Linked DNA regions of Homo sapiens. The protein of the gene in region 1 interacts with the protein of each later gene in a pairwise test. Each region holds a gene or a part of one and is shown on either strand. Other genes may lie near its edges. The genes, in order: SEMA4G, TNFRSF10D, COQ8A and CYCS.

Region 1 (6,899 bases):
GCCCTTTGATCTGTATGTGGGTGGAAGATGGATGGCGTTACCCAGACTTCAGGGGGCACTGAAAGAAGGAGGCCCAGCATCCACAGAACGCCCACGCCAGGATCGACTCACAATCATTCTGTCTATCGCTTTGCTCTGATGCAGGAGGCTGGGGTGGAACTTACCTTCCTTACAAGACCCTAGATGCCCACAACCCGAAACCCAAGGTCATGACCCTCTTCTGGCCAAGTCAGAAGCTCCACTAGGCCCTCAAGTCAAAGGAGCTGGGGTTCTTGGAGAGAATGCCTGCTTCTCCCAACAATGAGATGCAACTCGGTCAGCAGCTGCCCCTGCTGCCTGCGGGGGTGCCTTATGCAGGAGGGCCTAACCAGAGAGGTTTAATGGACCTTTGTTTATTTTGTCCTGCTTTCCCTTTGTTTTTTCTTTTCCCTGGCCTGAGAGCTCCCTCTGGAATTTCTCTTTAATTATAACTTCTTGGTATTCCTCTCCAAGGGGGTGCACATCTCTGCCCACGCCAGTCTGTATTGCACCCTCTGGCTAGGCATCCACACGTGTCCCTATCTGCAAGTAGGCATTCACAGGCATTGGGGTGGGTACCTAGGATCCCCCTGGTTGCACAGGTATAATGTCTGTGCAGAAGGCTGTAGTGTGCAAGGCCAGTTGAGACATAAGCAACGTGAAGAAGGTAAATGATGGGATCCCTGAGCCCTTGGCCCCTCCCGACACATCTTGGACCCTCCCTCAAGCCAACCAGTTGGGGATGGGATGGGGGTGGGTGGCAGGCCTCTCCCAACCCCTGTAACAGGCCTCCTAATCACCAAGGGGTTCCTTGAAGAGTTCCTGGGCTGGGTGAGGTGTGGAGAGACCTAATACATTCCATCTCATCAGCCACCCACAGGCAGGGCCAGAGGGTGCCACTGGTGCCTCCTCTCCCAGGTCAAATATTAACTATCTGGCCTTGGAAAGAGGGGAGGAATCAGGAACTGGCCAGAGGGATAACAGGAGCAATTATTCAAGAGGTAAAGGTCAGCACTGCAGGGGCAGAGCCCTGAGGGGTAGAGTCAAATATGAAAGGGAGAGAAGAGGATTCCCTGACCCTGAAAGGGCATAGGCTCCCTGTTTGGGATCTGGGACAGCAGGAAGCTTCAGGCAAGCCGGCCATGCCCCACCCCTCCCTGTGGAGGCACACCTGTTTACCTTTGGGACCTCCTATTTGCTCAGTGCAAAAGGCATGTGTGTGGGGAGCACTATGGCTAGGAGGAACATGCCCCAGGTTAGAGGAGCCACTCAGTGTGGTGCATGTCACACTTATAGTTTAAGAGTCACATGGGTGACTATTAGGAAGGTGATATACATGCACATGGGTGCACACACACACACACACACATGTTCACAAGGAGGACTGTGAACACGTGGATTCACAGGGGTCATTCACACATATACTCACAGGGAGTTTTGTGCACACATATGCTCATACAGAGGGCCACAGCCACAGGTAATCATACATATTCACATGTGACGTTGAATTTACATGCCCATCCATTCAGCAGGTCACACAGCCTCAGACATTGAGGAGAGATAAACCCACACATGTGGGTTTGTGTCAAGGACTGTGCACCTATTCAACAGGAGGGTCCTATACATACACATGTATGTGTAGGGACATGCACACAAACCCATTGATATAGTGGGCCAGGCAATCATGTTCACAGAAGGGTCAAGTACATGTGTGCTCACACGCAGTTCTTGAACACACAACTACATCCATGCAGAGACAAGCACACATGCATACAGGGGTCCAGTTTTTGCCATAGGCTTGGAGGCTGCCAGTGTCCACTGGGGTGAGATGCAGAGCAGAACCCTGCCTCTGTTCCTGAAAGTCCCAATTCTAAGGCCCAATTTCAAGTGTGTGTTTGTGTGTGGGGGTGGTGAGGGGGTTGTGTGTGTGTGTGTGTGTGGTGATGGGGGAGGCTTCTGACCTTGGATGGGCAGATGGGATGGGTGCATGAGTCAAGGCCGCTCTACAAGGGAGGGAATGGGAAAGTAACTCAGGCAGGAGGAGGCCCCTAGCTTCAGCAAAGATGGAATGGAACGCATAATTTAGTACTCCTCCACCCCTATGTATATTGCGGTTCTAAAGGTGGGAGACGGGCTGGAGCTCTCAGCCCCCACTTAACCTGTGGGAGGGGGCGGGGCTAAGTGGGCGGGGCGGAGCATATCACCCCTCCCTTCAGTGGCGAAGTACGGGTTTAAGGTCTCCAGTCCACGCCCCACACTCCACCCCAAGTTCCACAGTTCGGGTTCTTCCCCAGGGCCAGCCCCCTGAACTCTGATCACCTTTCCTCTATTAGATCTTGGGGTGGAGGGAACTGGGGAGGAGAGACCCTTCAAACAGGATCAATGGAGGATCAGCAGGCTCTCGACCTTCATCCCAGATGTCCACCTGCCTAGTGTAGGCGGTATTTCCCTCTGCCTAGTAGGATGGCGGTCTCTCCTGGCTTGAGAGAGCCCCTCCCCCGGGACCCCCTCCCTCCAACATCCTGGACAGTCCGCGGTCCTCTCCCTTCGTCAGGTCTAACCTCAGTCTCTACTGCTGCAGCTCGAGGACAAGCTCTCCTTCGATCCCGCCGGACGCCGGGAGACGTGACCCAGATCCTGGGGAACACTGTTCGCCACGCGGCCCCCTCCCCGCGCTGGTCCCCGACTCCGTGGTGGCCGGTTTGCACCCCGCGCAGCCCGAGGCCTGGCCCGCGCCCCTCTAGAGCCGTCATGCAGGACCGGGGGACTTGGTGGTGAGAAAGGCCTGGCCCAGCTTGGAGGGTAGAATGGACGTGGGGGAGGCCTTGCCCGACCCCCGGCCCGCAGCCCCAGGCTCACGCCAGGGCGCCGCCCGCACTCCTCGCCTTGCTCACCTTTGCGCTCGGATCCGGGGCCATAGAGACAGCGACGCGCGGCTCCGCGGCCCCACAGCACCAGCTGCGAGAGGAAGGGGCCGCGGCTGGAGGCGGGGCGGGGGGGGGGTGGTGGAGGCGGAGCCGGGGGTGGGGCGGGGTCCTGAAAGGCGGGGCCGACTGGGTGGGGTGAGGGGAAGGTCGCCACTCTCTTCTTTGCGCCCCCTACTCTAGCACAATAGAGGCGGTTTGAGGGCGAGGCTCACACACAGCCTTCGGCCATCGGGCGACCCCCCACCTCTAGGCGCTGCGGCCCTGAAATCGCCCCCTGGTGGTGGCCTCGCCACCCCGTGCACCCTCCACATGCTTATAGCCCGTCCTCTCCTCCGCTGTAACCCTAGGACCCCCCTGACTTGCCTACTGCTGGGGACGTGCAAACCTGTCCTGGCGTTGCGGGGTTGGGGGACCCTCTCGGAGGGCCTTCTGGCCTGTCCTCTAACCTGGACCTCACTCCCTGTGCTCCTGCCACCCGCTTCTGCTCTCGGCCTAGGGTGTGGAGGGAAGGCTACCCTAGGTGGCGACTGGACGTTAGGGAAGCTCTGAACACAAGGTAGGGGCTTGATTCCCAGCTTCAGGGGCTGTTCAGCTTGAGCTATGCGTGGGGGAGATGGGGTCAGGCCTGAAGGGGATAAAGTAACAGCCTGACCTGAAAGGCACACAGAAAATGCTTTTTCTGGATAAATAAGCCACAAGCGTTTGCACCTGTTCACTCACCAAATCTTAACCCTAACCTAGGCTCACCTCAGGGACTGGGTCATTCAAACACTTGCCTTCCCCTCCAGCTCATCTTGGGCACCATTCTTATCCAGAACTTAGAGTGCACCCTTCTAGGCAATCAAGTACCCTATCCTTCCCAGATTCAATCACCTTACCCAGCAGCAATCTAGGAAACCCCTCACAATCAACTCCCCAACTCCTTTAACTCAACTAGGATGGTCCTTCTGTGCAAACTTGGTTCCTGCCTCCTTTAATAGGTCACAGCCTATTAAAGTGAACTTAGCCCCTATAGTCCAAACAAAACCTGCATTCAGGCCCTGACCCAGCCTGGTCCTTCCTCCTCCATCCATGACAGTATTCATGTGGGCTCAAGAGATGGACCAAAATGATAAAGGCCACAGGAACATATGTGATTGACTCTTGCATGTGCCTAGGAGTCAGAACAGGATTCAAGTGGCACATTTAACTAAAGGAAACTTGGGAAAGGCTTCATCCTTCTTTCTGGATTCCCCAAAGCTCACAGTTTGGCACTGAATCATATACAATCTCGTAGTTTGGATGGCTGTGTGTGACTGCAGACTGCTAGACAGCAGGGCCCACATCACAGTTCCACCTCCCCCAACACTCTGCAAATAGGATGTGTGTGGCGGGGAGAGGGAAGGTAGCTGGGGAGAAACACAATAAAAAATGTACACACACTTTTACAAAGAATATCCTGCTTCATTTTTTATTTGTACCCTCATCCCATCCTGAGGAATTTATAGCCCCATTTTATGGATGGGGAAACAGGCTCTAAGACATTAAGTAACTTGCCTTGAAGTTCATTCTTGTGTTTATGGAGAGGACAATCAAGACTGGAAAAGTCTGAGAAGGAGGAAGCAGGGTAAGCCAGAAGGGGAAATACCATTGGCAAAGGTAGAAATGTTCAAGCTTATGCACAGGCTTGTGTTGGGGAACTAAGGAAGGGGCATGAAAGAGGGCAGTGAGTTTGATTTGATGAAATGGCTGGGGGGGGGGGGGGGGCGGGGAGGGGTTCCTAGTGGGAAATAAAAGGGAAAAGTCAGCTAGTAGTTTGAAAAAGACCACAGAAGAAAATCCTGAAAGAGATGATGGACTGAGTAAGGACGTCTGAGGTGGGAAGACCAGTCAAGGCAGGGCTAAGAAAGATAAATCTGCAGTCCTTATCAAAAAGTGGGTTGGTGGTAACAGTGGAGGCAGGGTAGGAAGACTGCTGGTCCTTCAGTAGCAGATAGGAGAGCAATTAAACTGTAGGGGCCCAGGGGGCTAAGAGGCACAGCTTCCCAAATGTTCACAGAACCTGCAGTGCTGACTTCAGATAGCTCTGGAGGTGGCGAGTAGGCCAGTGTGGTAGGCTCAGTATCACTCAACTTCACTTTATGAACCAAGCTTTGCTCCTCTGAGGTGCTGATGGCAAACTCAGACATTGTTAAATGAGCAAAATGTGTGATTTCAATGATCACTGGGCAGTTACTTCAGTACTTTTGATAGCAGACCACAATCCATTTCCTTCTGCTAGCCTCCCAGTAAAATCTCTAAACCTAATGAGAGTATCAGATGTAAAAGCAATTAATGGAGCTGCCCATAGGAAGCCCTTTTGATTGACAGTATGTCTCTCTGCAAATCCAGCTGGTAAAATAAGAACGGGGGAATACTGACAGACAGTGGAAAAGAAAACTGGAAATCAACTAAAGAAATTAACCCTAACCCAGCCATAAATCTGCATCCTGGGACACAGGCAGGTCATTCTTTGAACAGGCTGTCACTCATCCATAAGGTCACTACCCTGGCTGCTTCGCAGGGTGGCTGTGAGAGGATTCCATTTGGAAACCTTCTGGAGAACTTCACACACACAGAAAAGTATGAGTTTTGTTTTTGCTAGTCTATTTTCCCCAACTTTGCTGTAAGAAAGTGGCTGAGGGTAGTGCTGGCCGTCTTCAGCAGTGATTGTCAGCCACTTACACACCAGAGTTTAGCTCCACTTTGCACAGAACAGTTACTTACTGTAGCAGGGATCCTAGGTGAAGGGGGTGGGTATGAATTCCTGAAACTTGAGCAGGTTCCCTGAAGCAAGAGAACTCTGGCCTAGTCAAGTTGTCCTGCTTACTGTTCAATGTGGCAGCATTTCTGTTCCTGCTTTGCCATCTCCATCTCTGGTTTGCCCAGCACTTTCCCTTTAGGTGGTGTGGTCTTTATTTTGGCTATATATACAGCTGAGGTGCTTCTTCTGTAGGGGCTGTCACCAGTGCAACAATGCGGAAGTCTCACTATTCCACTGTGCCTCAGAAGCCTGTTTAGTTTTCCTCCCAGCCAGTCGTCTTGGAGTCAGACCCAAAGCTGGGCCTTCTGGTTTGCCCTCTCTTGACTCCAGCCTAGGGAATGGTTAGTAAGGGAAAGGGAGTGTCAGGACATTCCCACAAATGCTGGAAAACCACCACCCATCACCAATTTCTCAGCTTTAGCATGCTGGCTTTTAAAAAGTGAAAATTTTAATTAAAAAAAATCAGCAGAGATAGCTGGACAGAGAAGCTCCAGCTCCCGGTATCCAAAGAAATAGGGCACACTTACAACTATAATTTTTGGAGATATGGTTTGCTCAGATGTCAGTACACCCTGAGGTGTCTGCTTAAGATCAAATCTGTCATCAGAGAAACGCCTCGTTAGAGCAGCAAGCATTTGCTGAGTTCTTGCTATATGCCAGGCACTGTACTAGGCACTTTTCATGCATTAGCTCGCTTAGTCCTCACAAACCCTGAGGTAGACACCATTATTCAACAGATGAGGAAACAGTGAGTTTAAGTAATTTGGCAAAGATCAAAAGGCTAGTATGATGAATCTGGGATCTGAGGTCAGGCCTTGGGGCAAGGTCAAGGCCCTTAACTTGCATAAAGCTGTGCTGCCTGCCCTCTAGTAAGTACTTACGGCAATGTCTCTGCTTCTTCCTGGGCTGTCATCCCCTCATCCCTCCGCCCCACTGTCAGAGAAAAATGCTCCCATTTAGTCTCTTTCTAGCCAGCCTGTCAGAAGGCAGAAATACTGGCATGGTTTTGGAACTCAAGGCCTCTGACAATGCCAAGGCCTTCTATGAGCTCCAAAGTTCCTCCTATGAGGTTTCAACCTCTGCCTCCCAAGTTGGCATACCCAGATCTCTATCTGCTTGGCAGGTTGGAGGTGATCTCAAGCCCTGCTTCTGCATTGTACAGCTTCTTCTTT
Region 2 (7,368 bases), on another chromosome or scaffold:
AAATTATTACTCTAAGGAGGATATCTCTCTGCCCATTGCTAAACATTATGCACTGAACAGCCTGTTTCTCGGTCCAAGGAAGTTCGGTTTAGTGGTCCAAACTAGAATAATACCTTCTTTCAGTTCTTTTATATTAATAGCACTCTGGGCATTTGCAGCCTCCACCAGGTAAGGAAAAGACAATCCACAGTCAGTTTCTGTTGCTGTCGAGACTCACCTGTACCCCCCAGGGCACTGCCCTCAGTCTCACTTTCCAAGTATGTTGAGGGCCTCCTCATCAGGGAATCTGCCTCATAGCTATAGGCAGTCTCTGTCTCTCCCGCTGCTAGACAGAACAGCTCTTATTGGTGTCATGTGCCTGAGAGAGAGCAAGAGGAATGTGTTTCGATTCAGCCCATCTCTGCGTCACTGTGGTTCCCCCATATCCACTTCTTTTGCTTCGTGGCCTCTGGTGACCACCTCAAGGGAGTACACGGGGGTATCTCTTGCTGATTACAGTCACTTTCTAAACCTGAGGGTGGGTTCTACTGACCAGCATGGGCGTGTCTTACTTTAATGCACTCCTCAAGCTCCCCTAGAGATTTCCATAGGGTCGGGCCTCATATGGACATCCCTACACTAGGTCAGTTTCCCCTTACTCTTGGAAACAATGGAAAATGTAGAGACGAATATCCAAATTTAATACCCTTTATTTGGAAAGTAAGAATTGCAATTCTTGGCATACACAAAGACCAAGTTGTCTTTGGTACGTCCAAAGAACAAAGAGAAGTTTGGAAGTTTTTTTTTTTTTTTGAGACGGAGTCTGGCTCCGTTGCCCAGGCTGGAGTGCAGTGGCGTGATCTCCGCTCACTGCAAGCTCCGCCCCCTGGGTTCATGCCATGCTCCTGCCTCAGCCTCCCGAGTAGCTGGGACTACAGGTGCCCGCCACCACGCCCGGCTAATTATTTTGTATTTTTAGTAGAGACCGGGTTTCACAGTGTTTGCCAGGATGGTCTCGATCTCCTGACCTCGTGATCCGCCTGCCTCGGCCTCCCAAAGTGCTGGGATTACAGGTGTGAGCCACCGCACACGGCCAGATGTTTTTTTTTAAATGAGAAATACTAAGTATTTTTTTTTGCAGAAAGTTCATTGGCGCTGTAAAATTTGAAGAAGTGGCATGCTCTGACTGGTGAGTGACTGCAGTGGGTCAGGCTGGTCTTAGAGCAGCAGCTGGTTGTGTCAATAGATATAAGACAGAACTATTAATAGTTTCACGTTACAGCTGCCAGACTTACAGAGAATTGCAGTTTGGGGGTAATACAGTGATTTTTCTTCCCCATGGCCTCTTGACTCTGTTTTAGTTGGGTGTGACAAGAATGACCCAATTTGTGCGATCAACTTTCACATTCTCCTTCCCAACTCTATGACCGGGACATTGACGACTGTCCATGAGCCAGAAAAAAACTCAAGTACAGGGGCTTTTGCTGCTGTTCAAATCTTCCATAAGGCTAGGAAAATAGCATGCAATCCAACCCACCTAGCCAATTTGCCTTTGCCTTCTTCCATCAGAGGGGTGGCCTTCCAAGTAGGATGTTGTCCATTCATCTAGGAATGACTGTCTACAAACTAAGTAGCTCTTGGTCAGTAAGTAAAGAGCTGTGTATAGGGCAATGTCCAAGTGACCACAGAATCCAGCAGCTCCTCACCCAGTTCCAGACTCAGTCTGAGGGGAACAGAGGCTCCCTGCTCATGAGTGTCTCCTCTTTGCCTTCCTCAGGCACCAGGATCCCATATCAACCATTTCCATTTTTTAGGCTGAGTGAGGTGGCTCACGCCTGTAATCCCAGCACTTTGGGAGGCTGAGGCGGGTGGATCACGAGGTCAAGAGATCGAGACCATCCGGGCCAACATGAAGATCCCTCGTCTCTACTGAAAATTCAAAAATTAGCCAGGCGTGGTGGCATGTGCCTGTAATCCCACCTACTCGGGAGGCTGAGGCAGGAGAATCGCTTGAACCCAGGAGGCAGAGGTTGCAGTGAGCCTGGATCGTGCTGCACTCCAACCTGGCAACAGAGTGAGACTCCATCTCAAAAAAAAAAAATCCATTTTGTAATAGAACTCTTCTGGGACTGGCCTCCCCGTTAGAGCTTTTCCAAGATTCCTGAAGACATCATCAGTTTTTCAGGTTTCAAGATTATTTTATGTCCTTCAGTGACAGGGGAGACTTCAGTTAGTGTTCCATCTCAAGCTAGTAAGTGCCTCTTAAGTGGAAACTTGACTCTAAAGGCCCAGTTCCTTGGAGGTGCTCACAGCCTTTTGCCATTAGCCCTAGTCAGTGCTCCACACAGGGCACAGAGAATGCGTTGTTACCTGCAGTCTGGTTTCTGGTCTATACTGTGTGGTCCACCCTCCAGGGCCAAGGGAGCTAAGGTGCTCTAAGGACTTTCCTGCAGGCCCTGGTGGCTCTGTGTTAATGCTGTCAGTCTTCCTGAAGTCCCTGACCTTTCACCTCCTGCCTGGATCTGCACCCCGCACACATTCCTGACCCCACACATTTCTCATTGCCTGGGTCCTGGCACACATTTCTGACCCTAGCTCAGTGTCTGGGGCCTGGCACACATTTCCGACCCTAGCTCAGTGCCTGGGGCCTGACACACATTTCTGACCCTAGCTCAGTGCCTGGGGCCTGACACACATTTCTGAGTCTAGCTCAGTGCCTGGAACCTGGCACACATTTCTGACCCTAGCTCAGTGCCTGGAACCTGGCGCACATTTCTGACCCTAGCTCAGTGCCTGGGGCCTGACACACATTTCTGACCCTAGCTCAGTGCCTGGGGCCTGACACACATTTCTGAGTCTAGCTCAGTGCCTGAAACCTGGCGCACATTTCTGACCCTAGCTCAGTGCCTGGGACCTGGCACACATTTTTTTTTCTTTTTTTTTTTTTTCACAGAGTCTCGCTCTGTCACCCAGACTGGAGTGCAGTGGCACGAATCTCGGCTCACTGCAACCTCCATTTCCTGGGTTCAAGCAATTCTCCTGCCTCAGCTTCCTGAGTAGCTGGGATTACAAGTGCCCGCCACCACGCCCAGCTAATTTTTGTATTTTTAGTAGAGATGGGGTTTAACTATGTTGGCCAGGCTGGTCTCGAACTCCTGACCTCTTGATTCGCCCACCTCAGCCTCTCAAAGTGCTGGGACTACAAGCGTGAGCAACCGCGCCCGGCCCTGGCTCACATTTCTGACCCTAGGTCATTGTCTGGGCCCTGGAAGGTGCTCAGGGTGATCCATCGCTCAAATCCAAGCCTGTGGAGAGGATGACATTTCATTCCCAGGTTTCTCATGAGCCAAAAAACCTTCATTTCTATAGCGCTATCCTCTTCTATCTACCATGTGAGGGGTCAGGAGCCGACTCATCCCAAGGGTCTAGGAGTCCTGCCATTGACCTTACTGCTTAGGGTCACAAGCTGGCACCCTTCAAAACCACACATTGGGTCTGCCCTCACAGCGGCAGTGTGTTCAACTGGATGGGGAGGTAAGTAGCCCAAGGTCAGACAGTTGGACCTGGGTAGACAATAGACTTGGGGACAGACTTTGGAAGGCACTCCCCTGATTCCCCTGTCTCCATGGGGCCTCAATACTAGAGCCCTCAAGGTTGGTCAGGGAGTGTTTGTGCTTTGACCATGCAAAGGGTGCCAGGTTGTGGCTAGGGATGCCCCCGGCGTTCCTCTCCCTCCTACCTACTCCTCAGCCTCTGCAGGTGCCTGTCATGGCCTCTGTGTCCTTCATTCTGTCCACTCATGTGTTCACTGGGCCCCTCCTTGGTGCCAGGCACCCGCTACTGAGGGATACCAAGCCCCTGCCAGAGAAGCTTGGAGCTGGGTCACAGCAGCAAGGAGGCTGGAGACATCAGTGGCATCAGTGCACTGGTCAGTGAGGCCGCTGTGGGAGGAGGGAGTGGGAGCAGAAGCTAAGAGTGGACTGAAGTCCTGAGGCCAGGAAGTAGTTCAGGGTTTAAGAAGAGGAGAGACAGGCGGCCCGGGGAGGGAGCAGGCTCAGGATGGGCCTCCAGTGCCTCCTCTGGAGCTCACTACCCAGACTACAGCAGCGCAGCGGGCAGCGCCTCAGCTCCTTCCCCTTCTGCTGCCTACAGCCTGGACAGGACCCGGAATCAAACCGCAGGCCCTGGGTCACCGCTGCCGGAAAGAGCCAGTTCCTGTCCGTCCATGCACCCACCCACACAACCTGGGCCCTCCTGGAGGTGCTGGGGGAGACCCAGCCTGAGTGCCTGGAAGTGACTGCGGGAAGGGAGTACAACTGACCACGCCTTTTTTCCGGGGTATAAAAGCGGAGGAGCACGTTCTATTCTGGCAGTGTAGCTGCGAGAACCTTTGCACGCGCACAAACTACGGGGACGATTTCTGATTGATTTTTGGCGCTTTCGATCCACCCTCCTCCCTTCTCATGGGACTTTGGGGACAAAGCGTCCCGACCGCCTCGAGCGCTCGAGCAGGGCGCTATCCAGGAGCCAGGACAGCGTCGGGAACCAGACCATGGCTCCTGGACCCCAAGATCCTTAAGTTCGTCGTCTTCATCGTCGCGGTTCTGCTGCCGGTGAGTCTCCGCCGCGGTCCCTGGCTGGGGAAGAGCGCACCTGGCGCCGGGAGTGGGCAGGGAGAGAGGGGGACACGGTGGGGATGCTTGGCCCGGGTCGCCTGCGGCCGGGCATGTCTGGGCAGGACGAACCCGCCGTCGGAGTCAGGGGAAGAGTGGGGTGCCCGGGCTGGGCAGGAGCGACCGGGCCGCGAGGGAGCAGAGCGCGCGCTCCCCCTGGCTGTCCCGTGCGGCGAGGACCGCACTGAGCTGCCCCAGAGGAAGTTCCAGAATCAGCGGAGGGAGGGAGTCAAGATGGAAACCCCGGAGTGAACCTCAGGAAGCCACAGAGCGGTTGCCTCTTTCGTTCGTTCGTTCGTTCGTTCGTTCATAACGTTAACCCAGGCCGGTCGCGGTGGCTCACGCCTGTAATCCCAGCACGTTGGGAGGCCGAGGCGGGCGGATCACCTGAGGTCAGGAGTTGGAGACCAGCCTAGCCACCATGGTGAAACCCCGTCTCTACTAAAAATACAAAAATTAGCCGGACGTGATGGCGGTCGCCTGTAATCCCAGCTACTCGGGAGGCTGAGGCAGAAGGAGAATCACTTGAATCCGGGAGGCGGAGGTTGCAGTGAGCCGAGATCGCGCCATCGCACTCCAGCCTGGTCAACAAGAGCGAGACTCCGTCTCAAAAAAAAAAAAAAAAAAAAAAAAAAAGTTAGCCAGGCGTGGCAGCCTGCGCCTGTAGTCCCAGCTACTCAGGAGGCTGAGGCAGGAGAACTGCTTGAACCCGGGAGGCAGAGGTTGCAGTGAGCCGAGATTGCACCACTGCACTCCAGCCTGGGCGACAGAGCGAGACTCTGCCTTAACAAAAACAGACAAACAAACAAACAAAATTAACCCTATGTTTACACTGTTACACGTGTTTCTTGGAGATCAGTTTAACAAACAGCCTGTGAAAAAGCTTTCCAACGCTGTTTTTTGTAACTTTCATTTCCTATAGAACCCTGAAAGTGGCAGGAAGCGGTTAACCAAGGTGCTTGCAGTCAGTGTCTTCCACTGCCACCCGTGTGTCCCCTCTGTATCCCATAGGCAGGACCGCGGGATGGCCCCTTCCTTAGGCATAAAAGATGTAAAGTTCTCGTTGTGAGTTGGGTTTGGAAACTGAGATTGGTAGTGGGGTGCACAAGAAGGACATAAAAATAAGATGTGCAGACTGCCAGGACTTTTTCTGAGTGACTGACGTTTCTGCCAACAGTGCTTTCTAAGGTTTCTTACGTAATACCAAAAAACAAAACGGGGAGGATAAAACAAGATTACATGAACCATGAGAGTCTCCATGTTTTCTTTCAACGAAGTAATACTAAATTCAGAACAGCAGTGACATTTTCACCTCTCAAAAATTACACAACTGACTTCTACAATAGTTTATAGTGGGTGGACCTACCTGAGGCAGCTAGAAGAATGGCTGTGTCAGGACAGTGGCCCTGAAGAGAGAATGTGTGGATGACCTGTGTAGACAAGACCAGCAACCTGAATTTCACAGTTTTGGGAATGTGAACTCTATGCGTCCCAAAGGAGGCTTTGATCCCTCCATCAATCTTGCCTTATTAAATGCATTTCAATGCACAGTTGCTTTTTAAAATTTTGGAGCTAGCACAAATCACATTAGATGTTTTATGGCAGTACATTCAGATTGATTTTCTTTTAAACAAGGGTATTGTATTTTACTACATGGGTAAGCCACAGGTTAATTCACTGTTGCCATCTAGAGGCAGCTGGTTATATCCCATCCCGATGGGATATAACCCAAAGCAAATTTGCCTTTGCTAATTCCAACAGCATTGTACTAAATACCCTTGTATGTATCGTGTGTCCACATGTCCATGCGCACCAGCTTATTGGGCAACTCCTTAGAAGTAGAATTTTACTTCTACTTCCGTGGGATAAATCATTTCAGAAGTTTCTTTAGATGTTTACGAATTTTCTTCCAAAAGACCATTGAACTCAGCTTACACTCACACCTAGTTCACACATGTGCCTGTATCCCTACACCCTTGTTACACTTAGCTTTCATTCGTTGCTAGTCTAGGAAGTAAAAGGTGATTCATCACATTGTTATGTACTTTCATTCCTTAATGGTATTAGGAATTTTCAAGGATACGGGAGTTTTGGTAGTGGGAGTAGATGACCGGGGGATCCAGATGAGACAGCAGGGGAGGGTGGCAGGGAAGACTGAATTCCCAGCTGTGAACTTGGAGAACCGTGGTCAGCTGGGGCCAGTCCCTGCCACCTGCCACGCCTGTAAATGGAGATAAGGTCTCCATCTTCAGGCTGTCAGGAGGACATCAGATGAGCCTGGAGCTGAGCTCAGTTCCTGACCCCAGGTCCTGGCTCTGTCAGCGTTGGACTGTTCCAATCTGTGTGACAGAGGCTTCCGCCCCGCCCTTCTCTTTATCAAAGTAGGAATCGAAAAGATCCAACGGCCCAGAATCTCGGACTCTGAGGCTCTCAAGGACTCCTGAGATTGGAGGCTGGGAACAGCTGGGCCCTGCTGTGCTTCCCCTCCAGCTCTGTGACACTGGTGTGGCCCCAGCTCCTGCCTGTAAAGTGAAGAGGAGATAAAAATCTTCAGCAGCCCTGTGTAAACCTCAGAGGGCTGTGTTAGCAGGTGTGGGAGGATGAACCACATCCTCAGGGCTGGTGTCAGTCACTCCGGACTGGATCCCCAGGGCACATGTCCTCCACCCAGCAGAGGCTGCACCTGTTCCTACTTGCACCTCCATACCAGGCTCCC
Region 3 (2,798 bases), on another chromosome or scaffold:
AGCCTCTTTTGGGCCTGTGCATTCTGCAGATGCACTTTCAACTGCTCACAGGTCCGTAGAAAGGGCCCCAGCTCAGTGTCCAGTGTGTCCTGTTATCTAGGAATCAGTCTGGCCCCAGGAAAAGCCACTTTTCAGGACGTGGTCCTCAACTGCAGCTGATGTCTAGAGAGGAGACGTCTCACTGTGATGCAGACCTGGCATCAGCCGTGCTGGCAGGTGTCACTGTCCTCCCAGTTGCCACCATCACCAGGTACAGCAGCTTCAGCAGTGTGGTACAGCCTCCCGGGGGCTGGGGCAGTGACACCGCAACCTCTCCTCCTGTTCTCCACCCCTCCCACCTCCCTTCTTACAGGGAACGGGGCTGAGCCTTCCAGGTTCAGGGCCAAGGGCCTCACGCTGAACCAGTCCCAACCCTTGCAAATGGGCTGTGACACTGAACCTGCTGACCGTCAGGTCAGAAAAGAACCACCACCACGAGCTAGAAGATACGGGTCGTCATTCTCCAGAATACAGAAGAGGGTACACGCGCCAAAGCACTTCCCATGAGCATTTTTATTAAATTGAAACAAGTTGTTGATTCGATAATTACAAGACTTGTACAAAAATTCACAGCGCCTGTGAGGAGCCTTTGGCTGGAACTGGTGACACCTGTGCCTCTCCGGACAGAGGAAGGAAGTCCCACCCCGCCTTCCAGCAGCAGCGAGCCTGTGTCTGGCATTCCCTGTTCCGCTGCTCCCACCCTCACTGTGGGGCAGCAGTTCTTTAGGAACATTCAGCTGTCAAAGGTGAGAACCAGCCCCACAGGCCTGGGCCTCGCAGGCTTAAGGAGCACTTGTTGGCACTGTTAGCTCAGCACCTCTCCCAGCTCCAGCCCATCGGCTGGAGAGGAAAAGGGCAGAAAACACAAATCTCACTCTAGAAACACATACACACACCTACTACACAGATGATAAAATCCCACAATCGTATCTGTTCATGTTTCTGGGTTTTGCACTGAACAGAGATTGGAAGGGAGTAAGGACTCTCTCCCTTCTGCTTAACATTCACATCAGGAAAAAGAAGAAAACAAAGTTGCCCTTTCATCTTCATCTGCTTATTTCAGAGGACACACGGAGGCAGACTGACCGAGCAGTGGGGCTTCATCTTCATTCTTGCACTTCTCACCCTACAACCATTTAGCAACAGAAACCGTGGAAAGCGCTGGCTACGGGGCTCCAGGCAGCCACCCCCCTTATTGGGCAAAGGAGTTAAAAAGAGCATCACCACGACCTCGCTACTGGTTTTTGGCCTGTCTGAGGGAGAGAGTTCCCGCGGAGCCGGCCTGGGCGTGGCCCGCAGCCCTACTGCTGGGCCTGCCTCTTGCAGTAGTTGCTGTAGGCCTCCTCGAACATGGCCTTGCAGGGGAAGCGGGCCTTCAGCTTGGAGCAGATGAGGAAGGAGCCCCCCATCTTCCTGTGCAGGGAGTAGGTTTCCTCGGGTGGGGGGACGAGACGGTGCCTCAGCATGACGGGAATCAGGTTGTGGATCTTCTCGGTGGTGCTCTGAGTGCCAAAATCAAAAGGCTCATCAGAGGCGAAGGCCTCCCCCAGGATGAGGATGGCATCCAAGTGGGCGTCTTCCATGACCTGGGGCAAGAGAGGAAGGATAAATGGCGGCGAGACACCAGAGCCCTCCACCAGCCCGGGTTCCTCCCACAGTGCCCGGGGCGCTGAGTTCTCATTCAAAGCTCTGCTGTAAACTGGATTACATCATGGTAATGGGCATAAACTCAAACCCACAGGGGCCGGGAACACGAGGGTAACATGGACTGGGCTGATGTGATACAAAAGGGAGTGGCGGGGCCTGTGGCAGAGTGCAGAGGATGCGTCCCGCCTCGTGGCACTCATACAGAGTTTTAACAAAACACTGTTCTGGCCAAAAAGAACAGAGTCCGTGGGCCTAAGCTGGCAGGGCCTCCCACCATGCGTGTCTGAGCCTGCCAGAGTCCACCCAAGACACACCCAGCAGCCGTGTGTCTGCCCACGGGAACTAGCAACCTAAGGAAGCCGCCGCCAGCAGAGCAGGGGAGAGGAGCTGCCGCCAGGGACAGCCCAAGGTGGTCAGAGGGACGGGGCGGCCAGGAATCGAGTCAGTGCGAGTGGCCATAAGGAAGAGGCGGGAGAGAGCTGCTGCCCGCTGAGCGCTTACAGCTGAGATAAGGGGGGCTCAGAGATACTGACAAGCCTCAAATGACACTCCTATGAGACGGCAGACCCAAGGCTTGACCTGGATTTCTTTAACTCCTTCCCCACTGTCAAGCAGCAAGCGGAAAATGCCACTTTGTGGGTGGCTTCAGGCGGCACCAGCACAGACCGTTCCCCTTTATTTAAAAGGCTTCTAAGGTTTCTTCCAACTCCCCCCAGGGAGGCTCGATGAGGGGAGGGCTGGGGCTTCCCTTCCCACTTGCTCTGCACGTTGGCTCAATCGAGGCCCAACCCCAAGCCCTAAGTGGGCAAGAGTGAGAGGCAGAAACAAGAGCTTCACGACAAGTCCCCAACTCACTGGCCCACTCGGAAAATCTCACGCTCAGCAGGGCAGCATGGGCCGGGGTGGGCCCCAGCTTTCAGACCGTGCCCAAGGAGGCCCGGGCTCTGGGGGCCCCTTGAGGGCAGCTGCCCCCTGTGCTTTCATCCATTCTTACACAGGGAGCCGGGCCCTGGGTCAGCAGGCCCAGGGGATCCCCCGCAACCCTGCTCACCTTGACCTCGTAGCCGGTGAGGAACTTCATCTCTATGGATTTCGCCCGCACAGTCTCCCTG
Region 4 (3,592 bases), on another chromosome or scaffold:
CTTTTGAGGTGCTTATTCCCATTCTCCACAAATACAACGTTGTGTTAATCAGATTGATAAAGCAAAGCTCTAAACACAGAACTGAGAAACTCTGTAAAATGCCACACTAAATATTTTAGGCTTTGTCACAACCACTAACCTCTAATGTTGTAGCCCAAAGCAGCCCTAAACAATACACTAACGAATGTGACTGTGATCCAATAAAGTTTTTTTTCTTGAGACGGAGTCTTGCTCTGTTGCCCAAGCTGGAGTGCAGTGGTGTGATCTTGGCTCACTGCAACCTCTGCCTCTCAGGTTGAAGCGATTCTCCTGCCTCAGCCTCCGAGTAGCTGGATTTCAGGTGCCCACCGCCCCCCACCCCTAGGTAATTTTTGTATTTTAGTAGAGACGGGCTTTCACCATGTTGGTCAGGCTGGTCTCAAACTCCTGACCTTGTGATCCATCTGCCCTGTCCTCCCAAAGTGCTGGGATTACAGGCATAAGCCACTGCACCAAGCCCAATAAAGTTCTCTTTACAAAAACAGGCATCTGGTCAGATTGGGTCCACGGGCTGTTTATTGATACACACTAAACACAATTTTCTCCTAATCCTAGACCCAGCATTTTCTGCATTACACTAGCCCAGTGGTCCTTTCTGAAACTACACTGTTCAAGTTACAGACATATTTAAATGTTTAAATTTAAAATGTTAAATTTAACATTTTAACATGTTTAAATGTTCATAGACACATACAACCTGCACTTTTACTCTTTGAGAAATGAATGCAGTAAATTTACTTAGCTTTCTGAGGGAAATGATAGCCTGAAGGCATGACGTTTTCAAATACCCCAAACTCCAACTAAGATAACCTGGAACCTATTAAATGGATATCCAACATTTTGTACTGAACTCTAAGGATATGAACACCAGGACAATGGTTATTCTGAGGCACAGAAAATACAGCCAAAGCAGCAGCTCAGTATGTACCCCGACAGTGCCTAGAAGAGACTTATGTGGGAGACAAAGTTTCTGGTCAGGTGTATTTGTATACTTCATCAGGCATATGCCTTGCATTACATAGCTCTCGCCCCCAACTTGGCAACATCTTATTGGTTTTCAGAATATACTGATGACGGATTGCCAAAAGAGCTCATGAATGAATATTTTCCATTCTAAGGAAACTTTTTTTCTTTTTGAGACGGAGTTTCACTATTGTTGCCCAGGCTGGAGTGCGATGGGGCGGTCTTGGCTCACTGCAACCCCCATCTCCCAGGTTCAAGCGATTCTCCTGCCTCAGCCTCTCAAATAGCTGCAATTACAGGTGCCGCCACCACGCCCAGCTAGTTTTTATATTTTTGGTAGAGATGGGGTTTCACCATGTTGGCCAGGCTGGTCTCAAGCTCCTGACCTCAGGTGATCTGCCTGCCTTGGCCTCCCAAAGTGCTGGGATTGCAGGCATGACCTACTGCACCCAGACCACTTTTTTTTTTTTTAAAAGAGATGGAGTTTCCTTTATCTGTTGCCCAGGCTGGAGTGCAGTAGCACAATCACAGCTACACTGCAGCCTCGAACTTCTGGGCACAAGCAGTCCTCCTGCCTCAGAGTGGCTGGGACTACAGGTGTGCACCACGACGCCCAGTTATCTAGTTTACTCTTACCCAAGTATAAATGATATGAAACAATCTGAGACTAGTCAGTCAACTGTCCTTGGTAAGATCTCCTTCTTGACAGCCATGTGGATTCTATCACACCCTTTATAATTTACAGCAATCTTCAGTGGTTAAAGCAAAACTGTACATCTATAAAGGAATTCAAGAGAAGTGCAGGAAAAGGATGACAAAAGGTAAATCCCTAGCTACCACCAGAATGTTATCTATCTAAAACTGCCAACTTACGAATAGGTAAAACTTATGGTAAAATTATAAAGGTGAGCACAACAGGAACTGGAATCTATTCTGAAGGGCAATATAATGTACTTCCAAGAATTCTAGATTTTTTTTTTTTTTTGGAGACAGTTTCACTCGTCACCCAGGCTTGAGTGCAGTGGCACAATCTTGGCTCACTGCAACCTCCACCTCCCAAGTTCAAGTGATTCTTGTGCCTCAGCCTCCCAAGTAGCTGAGATTACAGGTGCCCACCACCACACCTGGCTAATTTTTATGTTTTTTGTAGAGACAGGGTTTCGCCATGTTGACCAGGCTGGTCTCAAACGCCTGACCTCAAGTGATCTGCCTGCCTTGGCCTCCCAAAGTGCTGGGATTACAGGCATGAGCGACCATGCCCGGCTAATTCTAGATTTAATAGAGTAAAGAGAAAGTACTTTTGTTACAGACCACTGGTTCTAGTCCTAGACCCAGAATGTCAATACAGTAGCCACTAGCCACTTGTGCCTATGTAAATTTAAAATAAAATACTTTCTAGTCACACTAGCTATATTTCAAGGGCTTAACAGCCACATGTGGTTAGTGGCTACCACACTGGACAGCAAAAGTCTACAAAATATCCATCGTCACAGAAAGTTCTATTAGACAGCACTGTTCTAGACAAAATAAGCATGTAGGTGGCATCTGAATACCCCTTAAATACATCTGGCCCTTGTTTTTGATTCTACCAACCTAGCCACTTACAGCGAAGCACTAGAAATGAAAACATGTGGTTTATAGTGCTCTTTTTTTCCCCTATTTCCTTATTTCTGAAGGTATATATCCCTGATAGAAATGTCCTTTTTAAAAAATTACATAATTGGCCAGGCGTGGTGGCTCACGCCTGTAATCCCAGCACTTTGGGAGGCCGAGGCAGGTAGATCACCTGACGTCGGGAGTTCAAGACCAGCCTGTCCAGCATGGAGAAACCCTGTCTCTACTAAAAACACAAAATAAGCTGGGCATGGTGGCGCATGCTTGTAATCCCAGCTACTTGAGAGGCTGAGTCAGGAGAATCGCTTGAACCTGGAAGGCGGAGGTTGCGGTGAGCAGCGATCACGCCATTGCACTCCAGCCTGGGCAACAAGAGTGAAATTATCTCAAAAAAATAAAAATAAAAAAGTTACAGAATCACATTTTAAACCACCAGAAGTGCTTGGGTATAACTGACCTAGAACATGGCAGTTACTCATCTGTGCCAACACAGACCTTAATATAGGAGGCATAGAAATGAGAAAAATTGGCCGGACGTGGTGGCTCACACCTGTAATCCTAGAACTTTGGGAGGCCAAGGTGGGTGGATCACGAGGTCAGGAGTCCAAGACCAGTCTGGCCAACATGGTGAAACACCATCTCCACTAAAAATACAAAAATTAGCCAGGCGTGGTGGCGGGTGCCTGTAATCCCAGCTACTCAGGAGGCTGAGGCAGGAGAATCACTTGCAACTGGAAGGCGGAGGTTGCAGTGAGATTGCACCACTGTACTCAGCCTGGGCGAAAAGGGCGAAACTCCGTCTCAGAAAAAATAAATGAGAAAAATTTTAAACCTGAAAAAAAATTAAACCTAAGTTACTACTGGGCTGATTACTTCTGGGTTAAATAATAAGATTTCTGAATTTGAAAACCAGGCAGGGCCTGGTGGCTCACGCCTGTAATCCCAGCACTTTGGGGAGCCAAGGCAAGTGGACGGA

What was found.
Region 2: the proteins of SEMA4G (region 1) and TNFRSF10D interact in binary tests that used the Homo sapiens proteins (3 or more experiments, as listed by UniProt).
Region 3: the proteins of SEMA4G (region 1) and COQ8A interact in binary tests that used the Homo sapiens proteins (3 or more experiments, as listed by UniProt).
Region 4: the proteins of SEMA4G (region 1) and CYCS interact in binary tests that used the Homo sapiens proteins (3 or more experiments, as listed by UniProt).

Annotation. Positions count from the first base shown.
Region 1 is NC_000010.11:100,965,605-100,972,503, reverse strand, and holds the start of SEMA4G (semaphorin-4G isoform 1 precursor), read right to left. Parts: upstream 3,001-6,899; 5' UTR 2,913-3,000; intron 2,813-2,912; exon of another isoform or gene 2,580-2,812; intron 1-2,579. UniProt on the Homo sapiens protein: Cell surface receptor for PLXNB2. May play a role in axon guidance.
Region 2 is NC_000008.11:23,161,010-23,168,377, reverse strand, and holds the start of TNFRSF10D (tumor necrosis factor receptor superfamily member 10D precursor), read left to right. Parts: upstream 1-4,350; 5' UTR 4,351-4,442; coding exon 4,443-4,592; intron 4,593-7,368. UniProt on the Homo sapiens protein: Receptor for the cytotoxic ligand TRAIL. Contains a truncated death domain and hence is not capable of inducing apoptosis but protects against TRAIL-mediated apoptosis. Reports are contradictory with regards to its ability to induce the NF-kappa-B pathway.
Region 3 is NC_000001.11:226,985,280-226,988,077, reverse strand, and holds the end of COQ8A (atypical kinase COQ8A, mitochondrial), read right to left. Parts: coding exon 2,738-2,798; intron 1,626-2,737; coding exon 1,341-1,625; 3' UTR 534-1,340; downstream 1-533. UniProt on the Homo sapiens protein: Atypical kinase involved in the biosynthesis of coenzyme Q, also named ubiquinone, an essential lipid-soluble electron transporter for aerobic cellular respiration.
Region 4 is NC_000007.14:25,118,119-25,121,710, forward strand, and holds the end of CYCS (cytochrome c), read right to left. Parts: 3' UTR 538-3,592; downstream 1-537. UniProt on the Homo sapiens protein: Electron carrier protein. The oxidized form of the cytochrome c heme group can accept an electron from the heme group of the cytochrome c1 subunit of cytochrome reductase.